Homo sapiens: one gene and its partners. The protein of the gene in region 4 purifies or fractionates together with the protein of the main gene of each other region. This does not show direct contact. Each region holds a gene or a part of one and is shown on either strand. Other genes may lie near its edges.

Region 1 (4,371 bases), on a different chromosome or scaffold from region 4:
TAATTTTTGTATTTTTAGTAGAGATGGGGTTTTGCTATGTTGGCCAGGCTGGTCTCGTACTCCTGGACTCAAGTGATCCGCCCGCCTTGGCCTCCCAAAGTGCTGGGATTACAGGTGTGAGCCACCATGTCTGGCAAATGCTTGATGTTTATAAATAGTAGTAAAAACTGTCCCAGACAGGTGTTAAAGAAATGTTGTTTTAAAAGATTAATGATTACCAGTTTAATAATCCACTATTTTCTTTTTTTAAAGGGTGCATTTGTTAATAGCTGGATGTGGTGGCATGTGCCTGTAGTCCCAGGAGGCTGAGACGGGAGGATTGCTTTGAGCCCAGAAGTTCTAGGTTACAGCGACCTATGATTGCGCCACTGCACTCTAGCCTGGGTGACAGAGCGAGACTCTGTATCTAAAGAGTGCATTCAGTTGGAAATTCTAATGAATCCACACAGATAGAAAGCAGAGGTCTCCTGGTCATCTTCCCACTGTCTGCCAGTCTCAGGCCCCAGACATGCCACTATTGACCCTGTGGTTTGTGTTCTTAAGAGTTTTTAAAAATAATTTTAGAACCACATAAAACACACATATATACATATAGCTTTACCTAACAAAAATGTGTGGTCAGTTTTCATGAATGTTTACCCTTGCAGTGTTGTACAATTATTTGATTTGTAATGTGTTTCAGTTTCATTTATGATTATGTCAACAATAAATGACACTATGTAAAGAAAACCATAGGCACATATAGCAGTTGGGAAGCGTTTATTTGTGAGTGTAAAGATTTGGAAAAATGTTTAAGCTTTGTGTGTAGAAAACAAACAAAAAAAATAATAAAAATAAATTTTGTGTGCGACAGGCAAGAAGCTACCGGATGTTTCACGACGACAGCATGAAGTCTTTCTTCCGTAGACTGAGTTTCACTCCCGACGGATCTTTGCTTCTCACGCCAGGTGTGTTTCGTAGCTTTGGACTTAAAGGAATGATGGCCGAGTGGGGATGTCTGCTCCCGTTTTACGCTGCAGCTTATCAGCTCAGTGAATGCTGATTAGAGTGGGGGTCCCCGACTTACCTGCCCATTGGAACCTCCAGGAGAGCTTCAAAAAACACATTGGTGCCTATGTCCCATCCCTAGAGATTGTAGTGTATGTAATTGGTCTGGGTGGCCTGGCTTTTGGAATTTTAAGAAGATTTCCAAGTGATTGTAATGTGCAGAAAAGTTTGGGAGTAATGAGTTTAAAATGATAGGCATTTTCTCTTAGATAAATTTAACTTTTGGCTGGGCACAGTGGATCACACCTGTAATCCCAGCACTTTGGGAGGCTGAGGCGGGCGGATCACTTGAGGTCAAGAGTTCATGACCAGCCTGGCCAACATGGTGAAACACCCTCTCTATTAAAAATACAAAAATTAATGATGTGGTGGCGCATACCCTGTAATCCCAGCCACTTGGGAGACTGCGGCAGGAGAATCGCTTGAACCCAGGAGGCAGAGGGTGCAGTGAGCCGAGATCACACCACTGTACTCCAGCCTGGGCGACAGAGTGATATCTTATCTAAAAAAAAAAAAAAAAAAAAAAAAAGAAACTTTACTATTTAAACCCTTTCAATGAATGCTTTTTCATTCATTAACATGTGTATGGAAGCCATAGCGCTAAAGCCAAAGATAAAGCTCCTTTATTGTTTTTATTCTCCTCAATAAAGCGCATTTGTGACAGGATTAGACTCATGGACAAACTTGTGGAAGCAGCAGTGGTCAAAATCAAAAGGTCAGCCAAGTAGCAAGGACTAGATAGGTTTATTGTCCCTATGTCCCTAGGAAGGCAAGGGGCTCAGCCCAGCAAGATAAGGCTAGGCATTATTGTGGCCACAGTGTTCTCAGAGGAGAATGTCTGCTCATTGCCGTGGCTCCAGGACCATCCTGTGCATAGAGATGACAACATAGCCCAGGGTTGGGCCAAACGGGAGGGCACTGTCTTGGTTTGCCACTGAGTCCCATCCCAGCTGAGCCAGGGAGGGCCTGAGAAGGGCGTGAATCACACATGCAGCTGTGTGGGTGGGGCTTTAAAGAACACTGCGGAACATGTGCGAATGACACTTTGGCCCAAGAAGTCTCAGGACTAAGAATAAGTAGTTGTTTAGGTTATATTTACTAAAGTTAGTTATTAAAAGTTATTCACTAAACCCAGTAATAAATCCTTTTTTTTTTTTTTTTTTTTGAGACTGAGTTTTGCCCTGTTGCCCAGCTGGAGTGCAGTGGCACGATCTTGGCTCACCACTGCAGCCTCCGCCTCCCAGTTTCAAGCGATTCTCCTGCCTCAGCCTCCTGAGTAGCTGGGATTACAGGTGTGCGCCACCACTCCCAGCTAATTTTTGTATTTTTAGTAGAGACGGGGTTTCACCATGTTGGTCAGGCTGGTCTCAAACTCCTGACCTTGTGATCCGCCTGCCTTGGCCTCCGAAAGTGCTGGGATTACAGGCTTGAGCCACCACGCCCGGCCCTTTTTTTTTTTTTAAATTATTTATTTTATTTATTTATTAATTTATTTATTTTGAGATGGAGTTTCGCTCTTGTTACCCAGGCTGGAGTGCAATGGCACGATCTCGGCTCACAGCAACCTCCGCCTCCCGGGTTCAAGCCATTCTCCTGCCTCAGCCTCCGGAGTAGCTGGGATTACAGGCATGCGCCACCACGCCCAGCTAATTTTGTATTTTTAGTAGAGACGGGGTTTCTCCATGTTGGTCAGTCTGGTCTCGAACTCCGGACCTCAGGTGATCTGCCCACCTTGGCCTCCCAAAGTGCTGGGATTATAGGTGTGAGCCATTGCGCTGGCCTTTTTTTTTTTTTTTTTTTTTTTTTTTAAAAAGCAGAGTCTCGCTCTGTCACCCAGGCTGGAGTGCAGTGGCACCATCTTGGCTCACTGTAGCCTCCACCTCCTGGGTTCAAGCGATTCTCCTGCCTCAGCCTCCTGAGTAGCTGAGATTACAGGCGCCTGCCACCACAACCAGATAATTTTTGTATTTTTAGTAGAGATGGGGTTTCGCCATGTTGGCCAGGCTGGTCCCAAACTCCTGACCTCAGGTGATCTGCCCACCTTGGCCTCCCAAAGTGTTGGGATTACAGGTTACAGGTGTGAGCCACTGCGCCCAGCCCCAGTAGCAAATCCTTTACTATTTGGCCACTCTAAAAATATTTTCAATTAAAATCAAGTAGCAAATGGATGTCTGTTATCAACGTTATTGTTCTTTGTGGTGTTAGTAAGTGTGGGAAAAACAGGAAAATGAAATTACAAAGATTGGAAAAGAACAGATAAAAAACTGCAATAGGATTGTATTTCTAGAAAATCCAAGAGATTTTAAAAATAGTATTAGAATTTTTAAAATAATTTGATAAGATGGCTGGATATTATAAAATATATAAAAATTCCTATCTTTCGTCTATATTGGCAGTGAGTACTTAGAAATGGAAGGAGGAGAAATATTTCATTCAGAGTAGTGCAAAACCTGCAAAATACATAGAGTAAATTTATTTATTTATTTATTTTTTGAGACAGGGTCTCACTCTGTCACCCAGGCTGGAGTACAGTGGTGTGATCATGGCCCACTGCATCAGCCTTGATCTCCTGAGTTCAGGGAATCCTCCCACCTCAGCCTCCCTACTAGCTGGGACCACAGGCGTGTAGCACCATGCCTGGCTAATTTTCTTATTTTTTTGTAGAGACATGGTCTTGCTATGTTGCCCAGGCTGGTCTTAAACTCCTGGGCTCAAGCACCCCTTCCGCCTCGGCCTCCCAAAGAGCTGGGATTACAGGTGTGAGCCACCACACCCAGGCAGAAGTAAATTTAATGAGAAAGGGGCAGGACCTTTATGGAGAAGTCTAGAAGGTCTTACTGAAGGTTATAAAGCAAGTTCTGAACAAATGGAAAGATATGTCGTGTTCTAACAATTAACATACTAATTTCATTTCCAATTAGAATTGCATTAAAGTTTTTTTTTAATTGGATGAAATCTCAGCTTTGTTTAGTAGAATAAATGCTGAAGAATAGCCAAAGAAGTATTAAAAAAAAAACAGTGATACTTGGGAGGGCATTTGCCTCACCACATATCAGAAGATCCTATAACACTACTTTTAGCCAATCAATATGGTGTTGCTATAGGACCAAACAAATAGATTAGTGGACCAGAACACAGAATCCAGAAAAAGATCTCAGGATATAAGGCGATTTAATATATGACCTCAGGTGCTGTTCCAGTGGAAAAAAATCTATTATTTATTTGTAATTAATTGTATGTTACTTAAATAATTCTCAAGAGAATTAGACACTGAAGGCAGATAGGACAAGAGTATGTCATTAAGAAGGTTGGGAAGTGTTGAGA
Region 2 (4,371 bases), on a different chromosome or scaffold from region 4:
GGCCTCCCAAAGTGCTGGGATTACAGGCATGAGCCACCGTGCCTGGCCCCAATTTCTCTTTTTAACGAAGTGTGGGCCTCAAGCTCAAGCCTTCAGCAAGCCACAGTATCTCACTAGAATTTAATGAGGCTGTTTTGCACAACTAATGGATTCAGTAGTGGGTCCCTGCTACTGCTCTGTAGACTGGGGCTAAAAGGGTTTCGGTGCTAATGCAATGGTTCTCAAAGTATGGAACCCGAACCAGCAGCGTCACTTGGGAACTTGCTGAAAATGTAAATTCATGAGTTCTCATCTCAGATCCACTGAGTCAGAGACTCTGCGGGTGGGGCCCAGTAATACTCCTCACCCTCCCAGGTGATCCTGATGTTGTTAAATTTTGAGAGTCCCTGCTCTGCTTCTCTGTCAGGTTCATTCTTCCACCCAACCAACTGGCAACCTCCTCGGCCCAGCCGACCCCACGGGCCCAGTGCCTGTCCCCTCCTCCTACCATGTCCAGCTGCTTGTGGGTGTCCTCCAGTGCCACCTCAGTCACCTCCTTCAGGTGCTTGCTCACGATCTGGAAGAGGTTCAGCGTGGCCATCTTAATGGTGCCAAGCAGGAGGGTCTTCTTGGCTGCGGTGTTCTGGATGTGCGCCCAGCGAGATTCCTGGAGAGTGGATAAGGACGGGGCATGAGCACAGCATGTGGTGTGTGTGTGTTTGTGTGTATGTGTGTGTGTGTATGCTCAGGGCCCGCACTCACCCAGTGCCTGGGAGCCCCCGGCCCGCCCCGGGCCCCTCACCCAGAAGATGACATTGCTGCGGGCACGGTCAAAGCGCATCTGCAGCCTTGCCAGCTCATTGTTTTGCTGCAGGATCTCATCATCCTTTTCCTCCATGTAGCGCGCCAGCCGGGCCTTGGCGCGCTCAATCTTCTCCTGGCCTTCCTGCGCAGACTGCATGAGGTCGTGGCGCATGCTCACCAGCGTCTTGTAGCGTGCAATCACCTCATGGATCTCCTCGAACTGTGGTCAGGGGCTCAGGTCAATGCACAGCCAGCCCCTGGGGCCTGAGGGAGCCACCCAGTCCTGCCAACCTCCAGCCTGGATGCCTGGACACCTGGACACCTGGGCAGGCAGGCCCTTGGCCAGGGTCACGGCCAGAGGCTGTGAGGGACACTGGGGTTCCGCTGCCTGCTTCTCCTGGGTTTGTACGGGCCACGGTCCATTTGTTGGGCAGGGGGATGCACAACTGGGCTAGGGATTTTCGACTTTAACTGCATGTGAGAATCACCTGTAGGGGCTTTAAAAAGGACACCTGCCAGTCTCCACCCCCAGAGATTCAGATGAATAAACAAGTCTTCTGTGGTCTCTGGCATCTGAATTTTGCAAAAGGTCCCCTGGTGGCTCTAGGCACAGCCAGGGTTGATAATCGCTGATGGAAGGCATTTTGCAATGTCTTCCAAGGCAAGAATTTCCTATTCAACAAGATTGTACCAGGAACCACTTACAAGCCAGGAGCTATGCTAAATGCTAGGGAAATAGCAGGAGTTAGGAAAACCAGATTCTGCTCTTAGGAAGCTTACAGCTTGGGGGGTGGCATGGAGGGAGGACAGACAGACAAGTAAACAGTCAGTTACAACAGCAAGATAAGCCCTATCTATGACTGGGGGATAGGGCTGGAGGGGACTCTGGGAAAGCCTTCACGTTGGTGATCTCTGGTATTTGTTCATTTACTGAGGGAGAAGCAGGGATAGAGAGGGTGCTGGTGGGGCAGGTGGCCTGCCAGACTCAGCTCACCTCCCCCAGCCTGGTCCAGAACCATGCCACTCTGGCCCTAACCCTCAGGTCCCACTCAGTGGAACAGAAGCCATGAAACCCACGCTCTTTAGAAGGCAGCATGAACACCAGTTCTGTGATACCAAGTTGCCTTCCTAGGGGCTTATCAAAGCATGCCTTTCAGCCGCCCAGGGGAAACTTCCCGAGCACCTTCTCCATCTCGTGACATCTCCAGTGATGGATGCGTGTCCTGGGAACTGCCCTGCTGGCCTTTCCCCAAATATGCCTCTTTGGGGAAGGGCCACCCAACCCAGCACGGAAAGAGGTAGGAACAGCCAGAAAAGGTTTCATGGGAGAAAGTGTGGCTGAAATGAGATGAGAGGTATATAAATAGAAGATAGCTAGCAAAAGCAGGTGTAGGGAGGTGAGGCAGTGCTACAGGTGAAGGAGACAGCCTGGGCAAAGATGAATGGAATAGGGGGTTGTATGTTCAGGATGCTGAAGGTAGCCTGAGTTCAAGATGGGGAGGGAGAGACTGAGAAGAAGAAGAAAGGAAGAAGAAAGCAGAAGAAGAAAGAAAGAGGGAAGGAGGAAGGAAGAAGAAGAAGAAGAAAGAGAGAGAGGGAGGGAGGGAGAAAGGAAGGAAAAGAAAAAAAGAAAAGAAGAGGGAGGGAGGAAGGAAGGGAAAGAAAAAAGAAAAGAAAAAGGAAAGAAAGAAAAAGAAAAAAAGAAAAGCAAGCAAGCAAGCGAGCTCAGTAAACCTTGGGAAGGAGTGTGGACTTTATCCATTGAAGGATTTTAAGAAACAGACAATTCACGTGTGCATTTCTGAAAGTTCATCTGGCACACAGTGCAACAGTGTACCACAGTTCAAATAAATGGACCACATCAGAGCTACTAGGAACACACCTCTAAACTTAATGCTGATGTCAAAAGGATTTAGGTGCCAAATCGAAGAGCCACCCACTGCCCAAAGATGAGATGATTTGAACATTAGTAAGAATAAGTGCAAAGGATTAAAACATATCAAATATGTTAAAAATCCATCAGTTCACAATGATACTAGAAACATTACAGGTCAGTGCTAGAGAACAAATTCATTATTCTGAAAACTAAATAAAGCATTTAACAAACTTTCTCTGCGAGACCCACATAGTAATCAAATGGTGGATGAAGGAAAGGATCTCTTTATGAAGTCCTTTTCTTTATGGTAGTATTCTAGCAAATAAATGAGGAAGGGTTGCTAGTGAGTGTCTTCCCCCGACCAGTGAGGAAACCAATATTCTGACTTCTATCAATAAAGATTAATTTTACCTGTTTTTAAACACATCAATGGAATCATACGATATAACCTCTTTTGTGTCTGGCTTAAGAAGCATACCAACTAAGGGCAGTGTGAGGACCTTATATGGACTCTCATTGGAACAAACCAACTGTACAAAAAGCATCCGTGCAATAATTTGTCTTAAAAGACAGGGTCTCACTCTATTGTTCAGGCTGGACTACAGTGGCATAAACACAGCTCACTGCAGCCCTGACCTCCTGGGCTCACGCAGTCCTCCTGCCTCAGCCTCCCAAGTAGATGGGACCACATGTGTGTGCCACCATTCCTGACTGATTTTTATTTTTTAATTTTTTGCAGATTTGGGGGGGGTCTCACTTTGTTGCCCAGGCTGGTCTTGAACTCCTGGGCTCAAGTGATCCTCCCACCTCAGCCTCCCAAAGCACTGAGATTACAGGCATGAGCCACCACGCTTGACCCATTTTGTGCAATAAATGATACTGATATTTGATGTTAAGGAATTACTATCAATTGTATAGTAGGTGTGACAATGGTGTAGTTATTTTAAAAAGAGCTCTCATCTCTTAGAGATACATACTGCAGAGAGACGCAAATGGATGAAAATATATTGTTTGCTTCAAAATGGCAGAGGTGGGAAAGTGTGGGGGATGTGACTATGAATTAATCATTATTAGAATCAGGTAATGAGCAACAGGTGTTCAATAGACTATTGTCTTTACTTTTGTGTATGCTTAAAAAATTCCGTATAAAAAGTTACAAAACATTAAATGTGACAAAATAATAAGCATGATTTGAGATTTTTTTTTTTTTTTTTTTGAGACGGAGTCTAGCTCTGTCACCCAGGCTGGAGTGCAATGGCATGATCTTGGCTCACTGCAACCTCTGCCTCCCGGGTTCAAGCAATTCTCCTGCCTCAGCCTCCGGAGTAGCTGAGATTACAGGCACCCGCCATCACGCCCAGCTAATTTTTGTATTTTTAGTAGAGACAGGGTTTCACCGTGTTGGCCAGGGTGGTCTCGAACTCCTGACCTCGTGATCTGCCCACCTCGGCCTCCCCAAAGTGCTGGGATTACAAGCGTGAGCCACCGCACCTGGCTATTTGAGAATTTTTGAAAGCAGAATACTCAAATAAAAAGTTACAAAACGTTAAATGTTACAAAATGTTACAAAATAATAAAAAGCATGACTTGAGAATTTTTAAAAGCAGGATACTCGTGATGTCTGAGGACAGGTGAAGAAACATAAGATTTGGAAGGACACAAAGGAGTTCATTTACTGGATTTCAATTATCGGTAGTGTTTGATTTAAGACA
Region 3 (4,371 bases), on a different chromosome or scaffold from region 4:
AGCCACCACGCCCAGCCATATATTCTTATTTGTAAGCATTCGCCTAAAGAAAGTCTAAAAGAGGCCGAACGCGGTGGCTCATGCCTGTAATCCCAGCACTTTGGGAGGCTGAGGCGGGCAGATCACTTGAGGTCAGGAGTTCAAGTCTAGCCTGGCCAACACGGTGAAACCACGTGTCTACTAAAAATTAAAAAATTAGCCGGGCGTGGTGGTGCACGGCTACTCAGCTACTCAGGAGGCTGAGGCTGGAGAATCGCTTCAACCCGGAAGGCGGAAGTTGCAGAAAGCCGAGACTGCGCCACTGCACACCAGCCTGGGCGACAGAGTGAGACTCTTGTCTCAAAAATAAAAAATAAAGGGCCGGGCGCGGTGGCCCAAGTCTGTAATCCCAGCACTTTGGGAGGCCGAGGCGGGTAGATCACAAGGTCAGGAGATCGAGACCATCCTGGCTAACATAGTGAAACCCTGTCTCTACTAAAAATACAAAAAATTAGCCGGGCCTGGTGGCGGGCGCCTGTAGTCCCAGCTACTCGGGAGGCCGAGGCAGGAGAATGGCGTGAACCCGGGAGGCGGAGCTTGCAGTGAGCCGAGATCGCGCCACTGCACTCCAGCCTGGGCAACAGAGCGAGACTCCGTCTCAAAATAAATAAATTAATTAATTAAATCAAATTAAATTAAAAATAAAAAATAAAGTCTAAAAGAATATAAAGAGACTATTCAAAGTGTTTGGGAGAGGGCATGGAACCAGGTTAATAAAGAACAGAGATGGAAGTAAGATTTTTCACTGTTTTGTTTTTTGTTTTTTGTTTTTTTTTGAGATGGAGTCTCGCTCTGTCGCCCACGCTGGAGTGCAGTGGCGCGATCTCGGCTCACTGAAGCTCCACCTCCCGGGTTCACGCCCTTCTCCTGCCTCCGCCTCCTGAGTAGCTGGGACGACATACATGTGCCACCACGCCCTGCTAATTTTTTGTATTTTTAGTAGAGACGGGGTTTCACCGTGTTAGTCAGGATGGTCTAGATCTCCGGACCTCGTGATCCGCCCGCCTCGGCCTCCCAAAGTGCTGGGATTACAGGCATGAGCCACCGCGCCCAGCCGACTTTTCACTGTTATATAAATTTATTTTTTATTTTATTTTTTTTTTTTTGAGACGGAGTCTCACTCTGTCGCCTAAACTGCAGTACAGTGGCATGATCTCGGCTCACTGCAACCTCCACTTCCTGGGTAGAAGTGATTCTCCTGCCTCAGCCTCCCAAGTAGCTGAGATAGCAGGCGCAGGCCACCTCACCCAGCTAATGTTTCATATTTTTAGTAGAGAAGGGGGTTTCACCATCTTGGCCAGGCTGGTCTCGAACTCCTGACCTCAAGTGATCCACCTGCCTCAGCCTCCCAAAGTGCTGGGATTACAGGCATGAGCCACCGCACCCAGCCCTAAATTTATATATTAAAAAAGTTTACATTTAATAACCAGTTGAATGTATTATCTATTCAAAGATTAAATGTATCTTAAAAAAAAAAACTAAAGCTCACAAAAGATAAGTAATTTGCCTTTATATTAACCATCATATAGTTAATAACAACAGAGTTGAATACAACTAAGGTTTTCCTAATGTTCTTTTCCTTTTATCACACTGCCTTTTGGAAATTTTCAGGAATGGAAGACATAAAACTTATTACAACCAGGCTTTTCTCTGAAACAGCCACTGCCTGTGATTGTTCAGGGAAAATAACACTAGTGAGACTACACTGAAGTCATCTCCATATGATGACTTTGTAAATAGTATAATAGCCATTGTTGGGTCAAAACATTCACCATCACCCACACAATACAATGTAATAATTGGGCTTCATCTACTAGAAGGAGATGAAATTCCCATAAATGCCTTTACCATAGGTTTCAAATTCCAACACTACATTCTTTTTGCAAAACAAAATGAAATGTATGACACTAAGAATATATGTATAAATACTTTCATACAGGGAAGAAAGCATAAAAGCAAGTCAGTTTTCTCCTCAAAATAAGTCCGGGATGAGCATATTTAAATGTGTAATTTTCTTTTTACAATTAACTAAAACCTTTTGAGACCAGCCTGGCCAACATGGTGAAACCCCATCTCTACTAAAAATACAAAAATTAGCCCTGCATGGTGGCCCTCGCCTGTAATCCCAGCTACTCAGGAGGCTGAGGGGCAGGAGAATGGTGTGAACCTGGGAAGCGGAGCTTGCAGTGAGCCGAGATCTTGCCACTGCACTCCAGCCTGGGTGACAGAGCAAGACCCCATAAAAAAAAATTAATTAAAAAAAAAAACAAACGCACACACACACAATTAACTAAAACCATAAAAAAATGTTACTGAGGATCCTGAGGTGGAGAGTCCCTAGCCTCCCAGCATACACACACACACACACACACACACACACACACACACATATATACATTTTTTTTTTTTGAGACGGACTTTCGCTCTTGTTGCCCAGGCTGGAGTGCAGTGGCCCGATCTCGGCTAACCGCAACCTCCACCACCCGGGTTCAAGCGATTCTCCTGCCTCAGCCTCCCAAGTAGCTGGGATTACATGCATGCACCACCACGCCCAGCTAATTTTTGTATTTTTTTTTTCAGTAGAGACAGGGTTTCTCCATGTTGGTCAGGCTAGTCTCGAACTCCTGACCTCAAGTGATCCACCCGCCTTGGCCTCCCAAAGTGCTGGGATTACAGGTGTGAGCAACCGCACCCAGCCAGCACATATATTTTAAACAGAATCAAAGCCCATCATATGTCAAGCTTACAAAGGATTTTTTGTGTTTGAGGGTCTATCCCAAACATATATCTGTAAGAGAGAATAACACATCATACATCCAGGGCATCAAGTATCTGAGGATATCACCATTAATTCATATACAAACATCTGTACCATTTGGTACTACTTTTCAACAAGTGCCAAGGAACCACCAATCCAACTCTGGGTCCCTCCTTGGTGAGCAGGCCCACCTATAGGACTTACTATCTCCTCTGCTCAATCTCCTGCTATCATGCTGGACAACTGTGACATTCATATTGATGACATATTCAACACAGCCCCCTAATCTCCCACTACTTCAATAACCTACACCTCCATTCCCCTTCAACAGCATTGAGACAGTTAAGCCAGTTTTTGTCTTTACCTTGAAATAATGAACTCTGGGCTGTCCAATTATATATTTCTTACAAAATCTGGTCTTCAACCACATTTCTGATTGTCTTTTTATTCTCTAAGTACACCAGCCTCCCTCTAGATTTTGCTTCTTATAACTCCCAGCTTGGTCCCTTGGAATGAAACATATCTCCTACACTATCAATAGCAGTGTAAAGTTGCTTCCCATTTTATCTTTCTGTCCTGCAAGTTTCCATTTTGAATCAATCCAACCATCTTTTTTGTCCTACTATTCTTAGGCTGTTGAAGAAAGTGTAAAATCCATGCTCCTGGGCCCCATTACAAATATATTATTTCTAACTAGTAGGACCCTCAATGTGGTCAACAATCTTTTAGCTCCTGAGTTTTTTTTTGCTTTTTTTTTTTTCTTTCCCCCAGGCTGGAGTGCAGTGGTACAATCTTGACTCCCTGCAACCTCAGCCTCCCGGTTCAAGCAATCCTCCCACCTCAGCCTCTCCAGTAGCTGGGACAACAGGCATGCACCACCACACCCAGCTAATTTTTTAATTTTCTGTAGAGACGAGGTCTCACAATGTTGCCCATGCTGGTCGCAAACTCCTGGGCTCAAGCGATCCTCCCACTTCAGCCTCCCAAAGTGCTGGGATTAAAAAATCCAAAGTGAGCCACTACACCTGGCCAACAATTTTTTTTGTTAAATCTTTATTCTCTTTCATTTTCCATTTAAGATTCCCATGGCCATAATACTCAAGTCAGAAACTCACCATAGTGTCTTCAGTCTCCAAACTGACTTCTCCACAGATAAGTAATCACATCGATAAGGCCATCTGTTAAACTCCCTCACTTTCCTTCCCTTCTACCACATCATTATCCATTTTCACTACTATCCTTTTGGTGTCAAAGGGCAAAATGCCTGACTGACATATTTCCTAGATGAACCTTCCCCTCACTTACAGAACTGTTTCACCTGTACTGAAAAGAAAAACACACATGTGCCATAATGGAAAGAACACAGGTTTCAGAACTAGACATACCTGCTCAAATCCTTGTCCACAGTACTCTCCACTGTAAAAGAGGGATACTGACATGTTAACCACAAGGCTGTTGTGATCTATAAAGCATCTTTATGTACCTGGCATATAGTATATTCTCAATAAAGATGAGTTTCACTAGAACCAGCTCTCCTTCACAACCAAACTCTGGAGAATAATTTTACTCATTTC
Region 4 (4,371 bases):
CTAGGGAAATGCTCATAAGATGTAAAGTTTTAATTCCTGAATTTTGCTGACAGGCGATCATATTTCCTTCCTCTTTTGCATCAGGCCAAGGCACTGGATAGCTGAGGTTGCCAACCAAATAACTTACAAATAAGTGAGATGTTCCTGTAGTTCAGTTGCATTATATTCTAAGAAATGAACTTACCCACACAGAAAGCAGAAGGAACACAGTGGCTTCTGGAATATTCCTCTCTCCCTCTCCAGAAGCAGAGGAGGAAAAGTACATTTTAATCCATTCATCCTAACGAGACAGCACAGCATCTTCTGACCACCAGAGGGCACTGTGTAAACAGTAGGCTTTTCTCAGCTAAAAACGCTTCACCAGGAAATCCCTTATTGCACATGGCATTCATATTCTTAGGGTTCGTTTTGTAGGACTTCTATTTCAAAGTACTAATTCTGTGGACTCAGATTTTGTCTGGAACCCACTTAAAAATGCCCCTCCCTGTATTTTGTCTCAGCTGCCACCACTATGTACCAATCACCTAGACTACTTGGGAGCTACCTATAACTTCTCCCTCATAATCAACCATTAAGTGTTGCCAATTTTCCCATTAAATATTTCTCAAATCTGCCCATCTACTCCATCCCTACCTTTCCTGCTCTTGCAAGGCCTCTGTTATCACTCCTGAGTTATTAAAATAGGCTCAACCAGTCTCTCAAATCCTTCACTCTCAGGTAATCTTTTTCTTCCCAGAGCAATGCTGTTTTGAAGATGATTCATGAAGAAGAAAAATCATATCACACTATTCTACCATGGTTCCCCTCACATATCTTCAGACTAAAGTATAAAATCATTATTGAGGCATACAAAGCCCTCCATGCCCACCCATCTAGTCTTACATGTTTAGTTACTGCCTGCTTCAAACTTCATGTTCAAGCAACATAAAACTGCTCATCACCACCTTCACCCTCCTCCACACACATCCAGTATACTTCATAAATTTCTTACTTCCCCTGCAGTTTTACTCATGCCGATTGGTTCTTTGGGTCTGAACCTCCCAGATATCATTTAAAAATCAGTTTATCACCTCCTGCAGAAAGCCTCTGTAACACCTTCCTCTCCCACTATTTTAGGTTTTGATCTCATTGTGTATTACCTCTTTATTTTGCACTTTTTACACTGTATTTTAATAATCAGAACAGCTACATAAAGTAGGTGTTAAAGCACAAACTAACCAGACTGCCTGGGTTTAAATTCTGGCTCTGCCACTTATTAAGTGTGTGACCTTGAGAAGGTTGCTTAGTCAATTTGTGCTTCAATTCTCTAAGAAGGGATGGTAATCCTTTCTACCTCTGAAGAATTATTGTTAAGTATATCTCTCATGGAGTAAGTGCTAAATAAGAATTGGTTATAATTATGTGTTGGTCTCCCCCATGAGATTGTGAGCAACTTTAAGGCGAGGACTTTGGCTTTTTCATTTCTCTGGAATATTAAGTATTCAGTAAGTGTTACTGAATGAATAACTGGTGAGACAGCTCTATGATGATGGGAGGGATTACCCAGTTTCCTTCTTTGAGCAGATCCTACACTTTTTTTTTTTTTTTTAATTGAGACGGAGTCTCGCTCTGTCACCCAGGCTGGAGTGCAGTGGCACAATCTCGGCTCACTGCAAGCTCCGCCTCCCAGGTTCACGCCATTCTCCTGCCTCAGCCTCCAGAGTAGCTGGGACTACAGGCGCCCACCACCACGCCCGGCCAATTTTTTTTTTTTGTATTTTTAGTAGAGACGGGGTTTCACCATGTTAGCCAGGATGGTCTCAATCTCCTGACCTCGTGATCCGCCTGCCTTGGCCTCCCAAAGTGCTGGGATTACAAGCGTGAGCCACCACACACCCGGCCAGATCCTACACATTTTAAAAAAAATTGTATTGTTTCCAATTTTGTGGCTCCAGTTTTGTTTAATTCAAACCAAAATCCTGAAAACATCACAATCATATAATTGAAATTCAACAAAATGAAACCAATTTTAAAAAATCATAAAATGCATGTTCATTCTAAGAAACTTAACTCCATTTTTAAGCTTTAAGATTCCCCCGATCCCAAATAACCTAACACACCAAAAGCCTTGCCATTTCACACATGCTGTTCCTTTGCTTAGAACCTTTTCAATGTCTAGCTCACTCTGTTTGGGACTTCTTTTTTCTTTTCTTTTTTTTGAGACAGGGTCTGGCTCTGTCATCCAGGCTGGAGTGCAATGGGGCAATTTCGGCTCACTGCAACCTCCGCCCTTCCAGGCTCAAGCGTTCCTCCCACCTCAGTCTCTCGAATAGCTGGGACTACAGGCATGCGGCACCACGCCCAGCTAACTTTTGTATTGTTTGTAGAGACAGGGTTTCGCCATGTTGGCCAGGCTGGTCTCAAACTCCTGAGATCAAACAATCCGCCTGCCTAGGCCTCCCAAGGTGCTGGGATTACAGGTGAGAGACATTGTGCCTGGCCTCTTTGGGAAGTTTTTTCTGATCTTAGGGTGAGGCAGATGCCTCTTCTGTGCTGCCAAAACAGCCTATACATACAACAATATGGTACCAATAATGCATCATCCCAACTGTGATGCTCTGTTACCACACTTAAGGCAGATATTGCAATTATTTGGCTCCCCTGCTTTACTGCAAGCTCCTTGACATCAGGGCAGTATCTCAGTCATTACTGAATGTCTGACATTTAGTTGATACTTGATGAGTTTTTGAATGAATAAATGTTTAAACAGGTAAGTTTTATTTTGCTTATCAATTTTTTGTTTATTTCAATCATGGCAACTTTTATATAGTGGTTGGAAATTAAAATTAAAATTAAAATTTAAAGCATTTTCCCATACATTATACAACTGATCTCACAACCACCCTGAGATAGGTATTTTTATTATCCTCATTTTGCAAATGAAGAAACAGGTTCAGTGGCTGACTTCCCCAAAACTGCTTATCTTGTAAGTAGAAGCTGAGACTCTTGATTCAAAGCCCTAAGTTTCAGTTTGTGTAAACCAGACAACACTCTTCTGAATATGACTATTAGCTGAAGTGCCCCTTTGGAACATTCTAAGCCTCCTAGAGTCACCTTTTTCATGAATCTAAAAGCTCTCATCATTCTCTTACTGCTCCATCTTGCAGGAAGAATGTCCAGTCCCTTCCCTAAATCCCCTTCCATCTGCTAACTCCCCACTGTCCACCAGAGCATGCCTCTTCTAATACTTCAGATTCAAAGTGGGGATGGAACTCATCTCTAAAAACGACTGCATGCATCTCATATAGACAAAAGAAAATCTGGTTAATTCTTTAATCTTCAAATTTTATTTTGAAAACTATTTTAAATTCAAAGACAGAGTAGTATAAAAACCACCCACGTCCCCAACACTCTCAAATAACCAATGTTGTAATTAACTTTCTATGTACTATTTTGGGGCTCTGTTTTTAGATCATCATCAACTTCTTCACAGTTCATTCTTCTTAAATACACATGGCTAAGGAGTGAGACCCTGCCGCTTCCTCCCCAGTATCAGTCTCTTCCATGCCACATCTGAAAACAGCGGTCATTGACCCTTCTTTCGTCCAATTTCCTTTCCATATGTTCAGCATGCAATCTTTGGTGCTGATCAAGAGGAACCCCATCCCATATCAGCACAGGGATATATTGGCAGTGGTCTTCATGGCAAGTATACCCACTCCTTCCTAATTATAAATTATGAAACTCTCTATAAAGGTGAGGGTTTGCTTTTGTTTTCATGTGTTTGGCTGCTGTAAATCAATCCATCAGAGGCTGGGCAACAACATTAACATGAACAAAGTATGAAAAATAGCCCACCATGATACAGTAAGTATTTAATAAGGACAAACCTAAAATAGCAGCCCAGTTAATCAAATAATTTTAAATCAGCCCAATGCAAAACACTCCCCTTTCCTCTACCTGGCAATTCTTACCAACCTGAGTAATGTGAACAGAGAACATGAGTCCATGAATCACCACAGGCCATCCCCAGGCAGAGTGAGGCACACACAGCTGTGATCAAATGTTGCCTTCTCTCGTTTTAAACAAGGAATTAACTGTACATGGTGATTATCTCTGGGGAGTGGGAGTCAAAATGACTTTCATTTTTGTATTTTATGTACTTCAATACAGGCTGAATTTTTCAAAGAGCATGGATTTTATAATAAAAAACATTTCCATTTTGAGAAAAAATAGACACGAGTAACCCTTAATTTGGTTCACATAAGAATATGAGAAAAAATAATTTCACCATTTTAGCATGAGATACTAGCACAGAAGAAAATGTCAGGAGAAAACATTCTATAGAGACCAAAGTGACCTCTCAAGAAGATGTTTCTCAAATATACCTCA
Region 5 (4,206 bases), on a different chromosome or scaffold from region 4:
GTAACAATATATCACACGTATCCCAAAAATGTGTATAAGTATTAGGAACCAATAAAAACAGAGTCTTCGATAGCATTAGGAGTTATACCTAATGCTAAATGACGAGTTAATGGGTGCAGCATACCAATATGGCACATGTATACATATGTAACAACCCTGCATATTGTGCACACGTACCCTAAAACTTAAAGTATAATAATAATAAAATTTAAAAAAAAACAGAGTCTTCTTATTTTTTATATTAGTTACATCCAAGCCACTCTATTGCTGGAACAAATATGGTAGTGGTTGTCATGGGGAGTGATGATGATGATGATGATGATGGTGGTGGTGGTGGTAATGGTGGAAACAATGATGATATGTTACTGCCAATAAACTTCTAAAATGACAGCTAATTATGTGTCAGGCATTGCGACAACAAAATTTCAGATAGTAATTAGATTTATCCCAAGACTAGTTTGTTAAGTAAATGTTATTTTGGTCGCTTTGCAATAAAGAGATTGACATTCACAGAAGTTGAATAATATGTTCCTCAAATCAATCAAACACTAATTAAGGAAAATAAAAGTGGTTTAAATAATACAGACATAATCTTTGATATGACCCAAATTTTAAGATTCTGACTGTGGTTGAAAGAAAGGTGGAAATAAACCCAAATGATTATATAATTTTACTAATAAAGCAGATTTGAAAAGAAACAAAAGATCCATTCACAAATACGTATGCAAAGATATTTTATTCAGGGAGTGAAAGAAAAGTGACAATTGCACAGGTGTTAGAAGCCCATGCCCAGGTGACAGACAGACACAGAAAACATCAACAGCATTTTTTGATGGTTCCCAGGGACAGAGCTGCTGGTCCTTCTTCCAAAGCTCTGGGAACTGACACTGCTGAGGACTTCCTTTCTCAGTCTCCACCTGGACAGTGGCAATATGGCAGCCTCAGAAAGGAAACCTTTTGCTATCAGGGATCATCATGGGCAGATCACTGGCTAAGAGGAAAGAAGCTAACTGTGTATCCATGGTAGGCTTTGATGAGAAGATGCAGGTGAAGCTGTGGAACAAGGTGAGCCAATTATCCTTATCCTTTCATGCTCCTGATGAATTCTGAAGCTGTTACTTGCTCTTGGGTGGACACTTTGGCTGGCAGGGTGGGGAAGGTGTCACAGGAGGACATTTTTGCTGGCACTGCTGAGGTGGGCAGGGCTGTGGACACTTTGGTGGTGGGCAGGGCTCAGGGCACTTCGGGGGTGGACATGGCTCTGGGCACTTTGGCGTGGGGCACACAGGAGGTGGCTGGCAGGGCTGCTTGCACTGCTGCTGTTGATAAGACATCCTGCTGGAGTCTCAGAATCTGAAAGAAATGATATGACAGTGTTCACAGGAATGGACTCCTCCAGAGAGAGAAGCCAAAGCTTATGTAATACCATGGCATATTATTTCTCCAATCTCCAAAAATTTATTTAAACTCTTAGCTCTCTTTTCATGACTTCCTGTCTTCTCCTTTCCACTTTAGCAAGTTGTTTCATCAGCCCTAGGAATTCCTGCCTTTCCTCATACAATTTTTCCAAAGAAAACATCTCTATAATAAAGAAGCAAGCATGTTATTCCATGAAAATGACATCTTCAGGAAAGGCAGTCACAAGTTCAGACCTCCTGGGCAATCTCACAAGCTATTCCTATCATCATTATCTGTTGTAAAGCACCAGTGGGTTGACTTGGGCACAGAGCAAGGGCTGTTCAGGAAGAAGTACTGGCTCTCACACCTGCTAAGACACAAACCTTTGAAAAGGATACCAGGAAAATATGGAAAAGAGAAAAATACTTCATCCCTTTCTTCAAACCAAAACTTTCCTATTAACTTCTCTGTCCATATGGACATATAATTGTACATTTTTTAAAAATCTGTGTAAAACACTGTATCATGTAATCTAATCCTGTAGTTCCATCAACTAAGTACCATCAAACCTATGATCACAGGTTTGGATCCACCAAACTTGCTGGATTCAGGTTAAATTCAACACTTCAGGGCACAAAGAACAGAGGAACTCAAGGAAGCAGACTCACCAGGTTCTCCAAAGCAGATCAGTGCTCAAGTACCAGGAGTTTAGGAGTTGTAGAGCAGAGAACCTCTTTATAGGGCCTGCTACCCCACCCAGCAGGAAGTGGAACTACCCAAAACTGGGCTGGCCCAGCAATGTCCCAACTAAAATGCAAATCTATCCATAACTGGCATGACAGGGATTCTCAAACTGGGAAATATCCTGTTCTGGGATCTTTCCACTGGATTAAGTGCCCTGACTCACTGAGGCCCTGCCTTAGATCTCAGTTTCAGTGACAGCAAAGAGGGACTTGGGGGATTCTCTAACTGGTGGTCAAGGGCTCTCTTTCTTGATTGGGGGCAATGAATGCTTCCTGTCTTACACATTCCCTAAATCATAAAACTTCCTGCCCTGATCCACTTTAGCTGAATGCCATATTGTTTGTACATGAACCCATCTCCACCTCTACTTTCCTTGTACAATTTGCCAATGTGCTAGAAGGAAGGAGAGACCTAACAAAGGCCTGAGTTCTGGCCCCAGATTTTTTTGCTAAGCTGTATGACCACAGCCAGGTCAACTCTCCTCCCTGGAACTGTAAACAGAAGAGCATCTTATTTACCTCTGGGTTTGGAGGCACTGACCACATTGTGCCATCTGTTGATCCTGTTCAAGCCTGAAATTTTCTGCTCCACCTCTTTCTCTTGCAGAAACCCAGATTTTACCTATATTCCTTTCCTCTTTGAGGGTTGTCTTCTACAACCCTCAAAGAGGCACTTGTGTCCCAAGATAGATACCAGAGTGAGATCCAGTCTCTCCAGTACATTTGCCACTGCTACCATCAAGGGAGTGTACTACAGGCTTTTCATTTGTAAAACTGTACTCTTATTCACCACATTAAGAAAATGGAGAAAAGGGAACCAAAGTTACAAGCATTCATTTTAAATCTATGTATTGAACCATGCCTGTATGTTTCCCTGTGAACATCATATAGAGAACAAGATGCATAGACTCACAGTATCTTATGTAAATAATTAGAAGTTTTCCAGAATAGAGGTCAGAGCACTTAAAGTCTGAAATCTAGGGGAAAATATAAACTCAGTGTGATCCTATGTGTTTGCTTTCTCTACCTCTCTTTCCAAACAGGTTTTAGTCTTTGAAAAATGGTATTTTTTAATTTGTTTGTATGTTCTTCCATTGTCTTTTCCAAAAGCTCTCTAGCCCCACAACCTGCTAGATTATCAACTCACACCCCAATGTATACCTCTCATCTGTTCATTTTAGTACACATTGTTCACTCGATACGTATGTTGTCAATGTGAATGTCTTTCACATCTTTTTAAAACTCTTCCTGCAATCAATGGGGCTTACTAAACATTGTATATTAAACATTTAAAACAGTGCTGCTGGAGCTTTCTTATCTGGGCTAATGATCAGGAAGCTTTCCAAGAATGTGATTTTATAATTGGAGAAGAAGAAGGAAGAGGAAGATAAGGAAAAAGAGGAAGAGGAGTGACTCAAATTCTTTGGAGCACTCACCAGCTATGCTCCAGATAGAGCAAGAACACTGAATCAACCCAGCATCACATCTCTCAGTTAAGCAGGTTAGGTTTCCAGATCTGCAATTGCTCCAGTCTTTAAGGAAGAGCTTTTGGCCAAGATCACTGTGGCCAGATGCTGCAGAAATACAACTATCATGTCAGCACCTTTGCGCCAGGTGTTTACAAATAGTGTTCTCACCAAATGCTTCCTATAGACTATTACACATGCCAAGCACAGTGGGTAAAGTAAACAGACTTCACTCAATAGGTCACCTACTCCTCCCCAGAGTCTCACATCACATCTACAACACAGATCCTTAGAGAAATGTCTGATTTCTAACATGCAAAATTGGAGAATTGGCTGCCAAATGAGATCACTGTGTGAGATAATACAGTTTGGGTCATGCCCTGAGACTCCCCTTCTGAGAACACCCCACTCAAACAGGCTGTTTATCACAGCAGTGCAGGCACCAGAGCAGCAGCAGCCCTAGTGCCCCCAGCATCTCAGACAGGCTCACTTTACAAGTTGAGGTGATGAACTTGAAGCTAAGAGTTCCTCACAGTCCAGGTACATGAAGAGCAGCCACAACATGAAGAGGGGCAGCTACTAGTCACAGCTTCCCCAAG
Region 6 (4,371 bases), on a different chromosome or scaffold from region 4:
AATCCCCTACAAACTATAAGATGAGGGATTTTAATCTTTAGCAATAATTTAAATATTGACTCTTAATTCTACCAATATCTGCTAATCCTATCAGCTACCCTAGCTTTCACACAAAACACAAGTTGTTCATAGGTTTATGTTTCTGCTATGTTCAAGGTCTTAATATTTCAGCTATGTAATTTCCTCTTGACCCAAAGTCATTGTCTCAACATATCTCTAAATTGAGGCCATTATTGTCAAACTGCTAAAACTTTTTAAAGTTTCATTTTACAGTGTTAAGATTACTTTGGAAGATTTTTAAAAATAGTATCTTTGGTGTTTAAGCCCTCCATTCTATCAATGTCTTCTTGTTTTCACTAAAATTAGTGTGCAATAAATATCTCTTTAAGATGCATTATATGTTAATCTATCCAACAAAATATAGAAAATATAATACTAGACTGAAATGACAGTTAAAGCAAATTTATTGTCTCTCCAAGAGACTTTTTAAGATTATAAGGTGTCTATTTTGCTCACTTAAAATATACCCTGAGTATTTCATTACTTCATACTTGCAGGCCTTTCCTGCTGATCTGCTACCAATTTAAAAGTAAGTGAAGTGTTATTATATGTTCCTATTAAGAACAAAATAATTTAATATTAAAGTCCTATTTTTCTACAAGGCTGACATAATTGCCCACTTATAGGATATGGGCATTCTCCCACACTTAATGCCCCACTACTGATAAAAAAAAAAATAGGAAAAAAAAGTTCTTACCAACAATTCCACTGGTTATCGTCCCCAGCGAACCCCACCTAGCAAGTCGACATCATGACATGTCAGGTCAGGGCAGCCTCAACCTCGCTTCCCTGATAGTCAGGTGATAAAAGGAAGGAGTTAAAACAGGAAAAGTACACTTGCAGATTTCTGGATAACATCTGAAAATGATTAAAAAAACAAAAAAACAAAACAAAACAAAACAAAACCAGAGCTTCTGGTAACCTCTAAATAAAAAAGTATATATATGTACTTTTATTTAAAGAAAAAAAACTTTTCTAGAAGGATTAACAATAATTAACTTCAAATTAAATATTATTAAATTGCTGACCAATACATTGTATATGCAATATTTTTAAAGCTTGGTGTTTGCGTTTGAAAATTAAGACCTAATCAACAAACTTCTAATATAAAAGTAAACATGTCTGGCTAATGGATTTGTTATTCTGGATTCTCCAGTCAGTCATCCAATCTACTGGTTTCCTCAGAACAACTCCACCCCTAAGTTAACAGAAGCTCCCATTCTTAGAGAAACATAAACACACTTATAAATCCAGTGTAGTCTTTCTATAAGGCTTTTTCTTAGTTGCTCACTTAAGAGATTCCACATAATAATTGTCCACATAATAATGGACTACACTAATATTAACTTTGGTTAGTTTTCTTTAAGAATATTGGTAGCTCAGTATAATAAAATTATCTTTGAAAAATCAAAATGACAAGTTTTAACATATTTAGAAGCCTTGATAATTGACAAGCAATAGCCTTATAGCAAGTATTTACTGGAAGGGTTTGGTTTTACAAATGCACAATTAATAAAACGTAGGTATGATTATATTCAAATGGGCAGGAGGCAAATGATGTAATGAGTTTCAAGAATAATATTATATGGCTTTATGCTAGGAGTGAAATTTTATGTCCCTTCTCTTTTAGAATTTAAAATATATAATTTATTTTTTTGCATGCTGACCTTTTTAAAAAGAATTCATCTCCTAAGTCAGATTTCAAAGTCAAAAGAGAGAAAAATTATCTCCTACTATCAGAAAGCATTGGGCTTTCTTATGCAGAATAACCCCAGTAACTAAAAAAACCTGAAAAACAATTATGCTGAACTCATTTTAAAAAAACTACAGAATCATAACTCATTTTCCTTATCTTTTCACCAAATAAACCTGCATTTATTAGAAATCTGGCAACTTATTAGAACTTTTTTGCTCTTAAAAATTAAAATACCTTCATATAAATACATACATTTAAGCAACTGCTATAAATGAGTGATCAAATAAAAATTAGTATTCCATTATGGGGAGGGGCATATTTGTATCGGTCTCACCAGGGTACCTACAAAGAATAGCTCTATACCTCAATATATTTCCCAACACACACTTTACTGTAACAGGCTCATAAATAAAGCCAAATCAATTAGCTTGGGGAACAAAAAAGATGGAAAGACAGGAGAGCAGGAAACCAAATTCCTTACACTCATAATTTGTACCTAATTTAAAAAAAAAAAAATGCCAATCTAGAATAAAGACCTCCCTCAACTGACATTTTTCAGGTTTATATATTACACTGTTAGATTTATTTATGTGAAAAGTTGAGCTCTGAATCTATTTTCTCTGAATGCTGCTACAGTGTTAATTTACAAGACATGAAAGAAGAAAAGCTCTTGAGTTTTAATGTTTATAGGATTATGCTTTACAATTTAAAATAGCCACAAAACCTATAAACCAAATATTAGAGGGTACCTCTGCAAATATATTTTTAATTAGTGAAAAGGACAGAGGAGGAGGTGGCCACTTTAAAATTCAAAATATAATTTGCAATTAAAGGAAAGGATTTTGACATGGAACCCAAGTTTTAATCTTATGTTTTTGCGAGGGTTTGTTTTCTCAGAATCATTTCTATCCCCATTCTTAGCATTCTTTATGACAACTTTGTAGCTTGTAACACCTAATTAAGAAATACAAACAACTCAAATTTTATTTGTAGATTTTGTTCTTTCCAGGAAAAAAATCAGGGTTTTACTTAAGTCTAATTAGATGTATAGTTACAACTTCAAATTGTACTTTCAAAGTTTAAAAGCAGCATTTAAAGAATGTTTGGTGTCTTTACTTGCATACATGGGCATAAGAAAAACAACTGGATCTGTCTTACCAAAGAAATACCCATGTTAACTCAAAACTATCATACAACAGACCATAATTCCTTTATCAGTTTCCAAAAAACTAAAATATCAATAAGGTCTGTTAAATGACTATACTGTGTAATGAGTGTACTTTGAAAAAGAAATGAAATATATTGACTTTCATCAGTAAATAGTAATCTTAAATTGAAATGAAAAGAAGCCATGAAACCCAATATGATCTAGCCAAGATTACACGGAATTAAGTGGCTTATGATTTTGAAATCTAATATTCCTATCACAAAGACACCAAACAGGAACAAAACACAGAATAATGGTGTATCCATTTTAATTATTCCCCAATGGCTTCTGATATTTTTATCATTATAAAAACATTTGAGAACCACGTAAGAATAAGATGGAGGGGAAAACTTAATAGTAATTTGAAAGTGATTCACTTTTCTGTACCGTAAAGCTTAGATTCTTTTGTTCCTCTCATTCTCAAGCAAAAAAGTCATTAGAATAAATCAGAATTTCTAAAGGAAATAGGGAAATAGATGTTATGTCTTGGCCAACAAAAAATTTGGGCATCAGGGATAGCAGATAAATAAAAATAAACGAAGTGTTAACAGAAAGTCAAAGGTATTACTACTGGATATTTTTAAGCCTCTCTTACAAGGCATGAATGTTTCTCAAAGCAAATTTACATAGTAATAGGAAATTATATTCCTAAACCAGTAACTGAAATGGTAGTCACGATCATTTTCACTAAAACTAAAGTCCGCAGTGCAATTGACGCCACAGTACTAACAATTTTCCCTGTATGTACATTCACTTATCCAGCAAATAAGGTCTTCAGTCACAAATTATCCCTTATAAAGAATGTGGGTCAAAATAAATTGCAGTCTGCTTTCCCAGCCACATTTTATTTGTTTTAATGCAAATTATCCAATGCCTGCAAGAATGCTCAAAAGTCTATGAACCTGTTTTTTTTTTTTTAATAAAAGATAAAATTTCAAAATTAGAAGAGACTATGAGAGAACACCAATCAATGAAAGTGCTAATTGGAATAAATACTTGAATTTAGACTAATCCTCAGTCTAATATCCACAACACATGTTGGAATAAACAAGAAATTTTGCATGAATTTGATCACTCACATAGGCAGTTATACTTTGAAAACAATATTCCTTGCAAGGATTACGAATAAAATAATGTTTTAGGACACAATTGAATTTGAAATAGGTAATGTTTTGAATAGATTTTTTAGTTTTATTGAAATCTTACATGAACAAGAAATTGGAAATACAATCACATCAAAGAACAAATTGTCACGGCTTTTGACGTTTAAGCCAAACAAATTTTGTAGGGCAGATTTCAAAAAGGTGTGAAGTTATAACAATTTAAAAACACAGTTAACCTACTTCTAGGAATGCAAAACATACAATCATAGGTTATTTTCAATACAAGAAAACTTAAATTTGTTTGC
Region 7 (4,371 bases), on a different chromosome or scaffold from region 4:
AGAGAAAGAGAATACTTAGTGAAAATAAATATAAATTACTGTCCTATGACCCAGAAATCCCACCCCTAGGTATAAAGACTAAAGAAACCGTCACACAGGCTTCTAAAGTGACATACACAGGATGTTCAGCACAGAGAGGATGTTCATCATGCCTTAATTTGTGTTATGGGAAGTTGGAGGCACTTAAGTAAGAAAATAAAGAGCTGTGGCTGCATAGGAAATACCATGCAACAACCAGAAAACCAGAAGCAACTTTACCTGTACCTGTAAGTCACACAAATATATCTTTTTTTTTCTTTTTGAGATGGAGTTTCGCTCTTGTTGCCCAGGCTGGAGTGCGACAGGATGATCTTGGCTCACCGCAACCTCCACCTTCCAGGTTCAATCGATTCTCCCACCTCAGTTTCCCGAGTAGCTGGGATTACAGGCATGCGCCACCACACCTGGCTAATTTTGTATTTTTAGTAGAGACGGGGCCACCTCGGCCTCCCAAAGTGCTGGGATTACAACTGTGAGCCACCGCGCCTGGCCCACACAAATATATCTTTATTTATTTATTTATTTGTTTGTTTTTGAGAAGGAGTCTCGCTCTGTCGCCCAGGCTGGAGTGCAGTGGCGCGATCTCCGCTCATTGCAACCTACACCTCCCAGGTTCACGCCATTCTCCTGCCTCAGCCTCCCAAGCAGCTGGGACTACAGGCGCCCACCAATACACCGGGCTAATTTTTTGTATTTTTAGTAGAGACGGGATTTCACCATGTTAACCAGGATGGTCTCAAAACTCCTGACCTCATGATCCGCCCATCTCAGCCTCCCAAAGTGCTGAGGATAACAGGCGTGAGCCACCGTGCCCAGCCCACAAATATATCTTTAAAACATATTAGTGCAAGTGCATATTGCATTTTTAAAAAGAGAACAAGATCACAATACCATATAGATAAATTAAGAATATATAGTAAACCACACGCCTGTAATCCTGGCTTCCTGGGAGGCCAAGACAGAGGTCTGCTTGAGTCCCCAAGTTTAAGACTAGCCTGGACAACATAGTGAGACCTAAAAAAAAATATACAGTATGCATACAGTACAATTCTTTGCCATCTAAAAATCTACCTTGAAGAAATCAAAGACCCATAAAAATTCATCACAAGGAGGTGCAATGCAGCATTGTAATCACAAAGGGAAATTAGGGATAACTTGAATATACACAATAGAATTAATTCAGTATGAAAAAGCCCTTCAATAAAATAATGTGCAGACAATTAAAATATGTCCAAATAGTTAATGTCAGAGGAAATGTTTCCACTCTAAGTCAACAGAACACATTACAAAGCAGAATGTATATCACGATCTCAATTTTCTTTATGTGTTTACTGTATATGCACATAATTATTAGAAACATATCATCAAAATGTTATTAGTGGCTTACCTGTAGGTAGTGGGAATAGAAAATGTTATTCTTGCTTGTGCTTTTTCCATGTTTTTCTTTTTCTTTTTTTTTTTTTTTGAGATGGAGTCTCACTCTGTCGCCCATGCTGGAGTACAATGATTCAATCTCAGCTCACTGGAACCTCTGCCTCCCAGGTTCAAGCGATTCTCGTGTCTCAGCCTCCCAAGTAGTTAAGATGACAGGCACCAGCCACTGTGCCCAGCTAATTTTTTTTTTTGTATTTTCAGTAGAGACGGGGTTTCACCACACTGGTCAGGCTGGTCTCAAACTCTTGACCTCAAGTGATCCACCCAACTTGGCCTCCCAAAGTGCTGGGATTGCAGGCATGAGCCACTGCACCCAGCCCATGTTTTTCTATATTTTCTTCCATAAGCATATACTGTTACCAATAACTTTTTAAGTTTATCCACAGTTAAAAGAAAAATCTATGATTAAAAATGGTAATCTGATACATATATGCTCTGACACAGCCTTAAGGTATTTGATAAATGTTTGCCGTTTATTTGAATTTACAAGTTAAAATAAAGTTTTAAGTCTTAAAATAAAGGGAACAATATGACAAAAAACCTGAATCACGATTCTAGTGGTAGAAGCAGCAATACCTTAAAAACAAGAGATCTTAATTTCCTCATTTTACACAAGAAAAAAACACCACCAATGTGTTTAGATAAGTTATAGAATATTTTTTTCCTAAATTTAAAATATTGTTTTCAACCAGGAGTGTGGCACACACCAGTAGTCCTAGCTACTCCAAAGGCTGAGGCAGAATTGCTTGAATTGGGAAGCAGAGGTTGCAGTGAGCCGAGATAGCGCCACTGCACTCCAGACTGGGCTACACAGCGAGACTCAGTCTCAAAAATAAATAATAAAATCGGCTGAGCGCGGTGGCTCACGCCTGTAATCCCAGCACTTTGGGAGGCCAAGGCAGGCGAATCATCTGAGGTCAGGAGTTGGGAGACTAGCCTGACCAACAGAGTGAAACCCCGTCTCTACTAAAAACACAAAAATTAGCTGTGCGTGGTGGCAGGCGCCTATAATCCCAGCTACTCGGGAGGCTGAGACAGGAGAATCGCTTGAACCCGGGAGGCAGAGGTTGCAGTGAGCCGAGATCATGCCACTGCACTCCACCTGGGTGACAGAGCAAGATTCCGTCTCAAAAAAAATAAATAAATAAAATAAAATCTTGTTTTCCTCCAGATATTTCAGCTAACCTGTATTATCACACTTGGCCAAATTGTTCACTAACATTGACTTGCTCCAGCATTGGCAATAGCGCTCAATTTTTTTTTTTTTGAGACGAAGTCTCGCTCTGTCGCCCAGGCTGGAGTGCAGTGGCGCGATCTCGGCTCACTCCAAGCTCCGCCTCCCAGGTTCGTGCCATTCTCCTGCCTCAGCCTCCCGAGTAGCTGGGACTACAGGCACCCGCCACCACGCCCGGCTAATTTTTTCTATTTTTTAGTAGAGACAGGGTTTCACCGTGTTAGCCAGGATGGTCTCGATCTCCTGACCTCATGATCTGCCCATCTCAGCCTCCCAAAGTGCTGGGATTACAGGCGTGAGCCACCATGCCCGGCCAATAGTGCTCAATATTTTATTCTTACCATTCCTACCTCTCATATGATCTACTTCTCTGTCTCTTCATCCCAATATAAAGCTGAGTAAAAATTAGGAGAGGCTGAACACTGTGGTTCATGCCTGTAATCCCATCACTTTGGGAGGGTGAGGTAGAGAGATCATTTGAGCCCAGGAGTTCATGAGTCCAGGAATTCAAGACCAGCCTGGGTAACATAGCAAGACCCTGTCTCTACTACCCCCCACAGCTGCAGCAAAAAAGAATCATGAGAGTCAAAGGGCCATTTTTCTTTTTTTGGAAATGGAGTCTCACTCTGTCGCCCAGGCTGGAGTGCAATGGCACAATCTCGGTGCACTGCAACCTCCGCCTCCTGGGTTCAAGCGATTCTCCTGCCTCAGCCTCCCAAGTAGTTGGGACTACAGGGACATGCCATCACCCCCAGCTAGTTTTTAGTAGAGACGGGGTTTCACTATGTTGGCCAGGCTAGTCTTGAACTCCTGACCTCAGATGATCTGACTGCCTGGGCCTCCCAAAGTGCTGGGATTAGAGGCATAAGCCACCGCACCCAGCCAAGGACCATTTTCAAAGATAGTGCATTTTAAGAAAAGTTTTCAGGTTTTCCCCCTTAATATTTAGTAGCTTTTTAAATTGTTTTGTGGATTAAACTAAGGCTTATAAAACACTTGTTCAAAAAAGCCTTAAAATTATTTAAAAAGCAATTATTTAAAAAGATACGCAGACAAAAATCACATAAATAATTCCTTCAGAGCAGAGATTCAAAACTAAGACTCTACTTGAGAGTCAAACATTTTGATTCATCATGTGCCAAAAAGATCAGTAAAAACAAATTTAAGACACTGCATTAAGAGCTACCTTACTATAAAATATCACATTATTTTTTATGGGGAAGTTTCGACTAATACCAAAGCAAACTCAAATGTTTTAGAGTATCACTAAAGGAATTAAAAAAAACAAAAACAACAAAAAAAAAACCTCTGTTTGGTTTGTGAAGCTTGGGTGTGGTTCCTTATTTGTCAGCCTGTACCCCCCCCTCCACCCACAATGAAAACCACATGCACTCTAAGTGTGTTTGGTGAAGAAATTTAAAAACCAGATGTAAAAACATGTCAAAAGCAAGTGAGAGTTTTGTACTTCCTTGTCTGAAAATTCCTGAAGAAATTGCATATATGTAGTTACATTTTAACAACTGAAATTACTTCAACATAAAAATGTAACAATTTGCCAGGGCACTGGTGCACCCCTGTAATCTCAGCACTTTGGGAGGGAGAGGTAGGAGATTGCTTGAAACCAGCCTGTGCAACATGGCAAAACCCCCGTTGCTACAAAAAAA

What was found.
Region 1: the proteins of ZBTB1 (region 4) and CHAF1B purify together in Homo sapiens (co-immunoprecipitation; one large-scale study listed by IntAct). This does not show direct contact.
Region 2: the proteins of ZBTB1 (region 4) and CCDC42 purify together in Homo sapiens (affinity purification with mass spectrometry, with the first as the bait; one study listed by BioGRID). This does not show direct contact.
Region 3: the proteins of ZBTB1 (region 4) and TESK2 purify together in Homo sapiens (affinity purification with mass spectrometry, with the first as the bait; one study listed by BioGRID). This does not show direct contact.
Region 5: the proteins of ZBTB1 (region 4) and SPRR2E purify together in Homo sapiens (affinity purification with mass spectrometry, with the first as the bait; one study listed by BioGRID). This does not show direct contact.
Region 6: the proteins of ZBTB1 (region 4) and HNRNPR purify together in Homo sapiens (affinity purification with mass spectrometry, with the first as the bait; one study listed by BioGRID). This does not show direct contact.
Region 7: the proteins of ZBTB1 (region 4) and STK38 purify together in Homo sapiens (affinity purification with mass spectrometry, with the first as the bait; one study listed by BioGRID). This does not show direct contact.

The regions. Positions count from the first base shown.
Region 1 is NC_000021.9:36,401,905-36,406,275, forward strand, and holds part of CHAF1B (chromatin assembly factor 1 subunit B), read left to right. Parts: intron 1-853; coding exon 854-947; intron 948-4,371. UniProt on the Homo sapiens protein: Acts as a component of the histone chaperone complex chromatin assembly factor 1 (CAF-1), which assembles histone octamers onto DNA during replication and repair.
Region 2 is NC_000017.11:8,734,609-8,738,979, forward strand, and holds part of CCDC42 (coiled-coil domain-containing protein 42), read right to left. Parts: intron 1,004-4,371; coding exon 782-1,003; intron 647-781; coding exon 488-646; intron 1-487. UniProt on the Homo sapiens protein: Essential for male fertility. Required for sperm development.
Region 3 is NC_000001.11:45,484,392-45,488,762, forward strand, and holds part of TESK2 (dual specificity testis-specific protein kinase 2), read right to left. Parts: intron 1-4,371. UniProt on the Homo sapiens protein: Dual specificity protein kinase activity catalyzing autophosphorylation and phosphorylation of exogenous substrates on both serine/threonine and tyrosine residues. Phosphorylates cofilin at 'Ser-3'. May play an important role in spermatogenesis.
Region 4 is NC_000014.9:64,507,198-64,511,568, reverse strand, and holds part of ZBTB1 (zinc finger and BTB domain-containing protein 1), read right to left. Parts: intron 321-4,371; exon of another isoform or gene 185-320; intron 1-184.
Region 5 is NC_000001.11:153,092,418-153,096,623, forward strand, and holds SPRR2E (small proline-rich protein 2E), read right to left. Parts: upstream 2,110-4,206; 5' UTR 2,067-2,109; intron 1,354-2,066; 5' UTR 1,335-1,353; coding exon 1,116-1,334; 3' UTR 718-1,115; downstream 1-717. UniProt on the Homo sapiens protein: Cross-linked envelope protein of keratinocytes. It is a keratinocyte protein that first appears in the cell cytosol, but ultimately becomes cross-linked to membrane proteins by transglutaminase.
Region 6 is NC_000001.11:23,305,655-23,310,025, forward strand, and holds part of HNRNPR (heterogeneous nuclear ribonucleoprotein R), read right to left. Parts: 3' UTR 1-4,371. UniProt on the Homo sapiens protein: Component of ribonucleosomes, which are complexes of at least 20 other different heterogeneous nuclear ribonucleoproteins (hnRNP). hnRNP play an important role in processing of precursor mRNA in the nucleus.
Region 7 is NC_000006.12:36,540,343-36,544,713, forward strand, and holds part of STK38 (serine/threonine-protein kinase 38), read right to left. Parts: exon of another isoform or gene 1,427-4,371; intron 448-1,426; exon of another isoform or gene 259-447; intron 1-258. UniProt on the Homo sapiens protein: Serine/threonine-protein kinase that acts as a negative regulator of MAP3K1/2 signaling. Converts MAP3K2 from its phosphorylated form to its non-phosphorylated form and inhibits autophosphorylation of MAP3K2.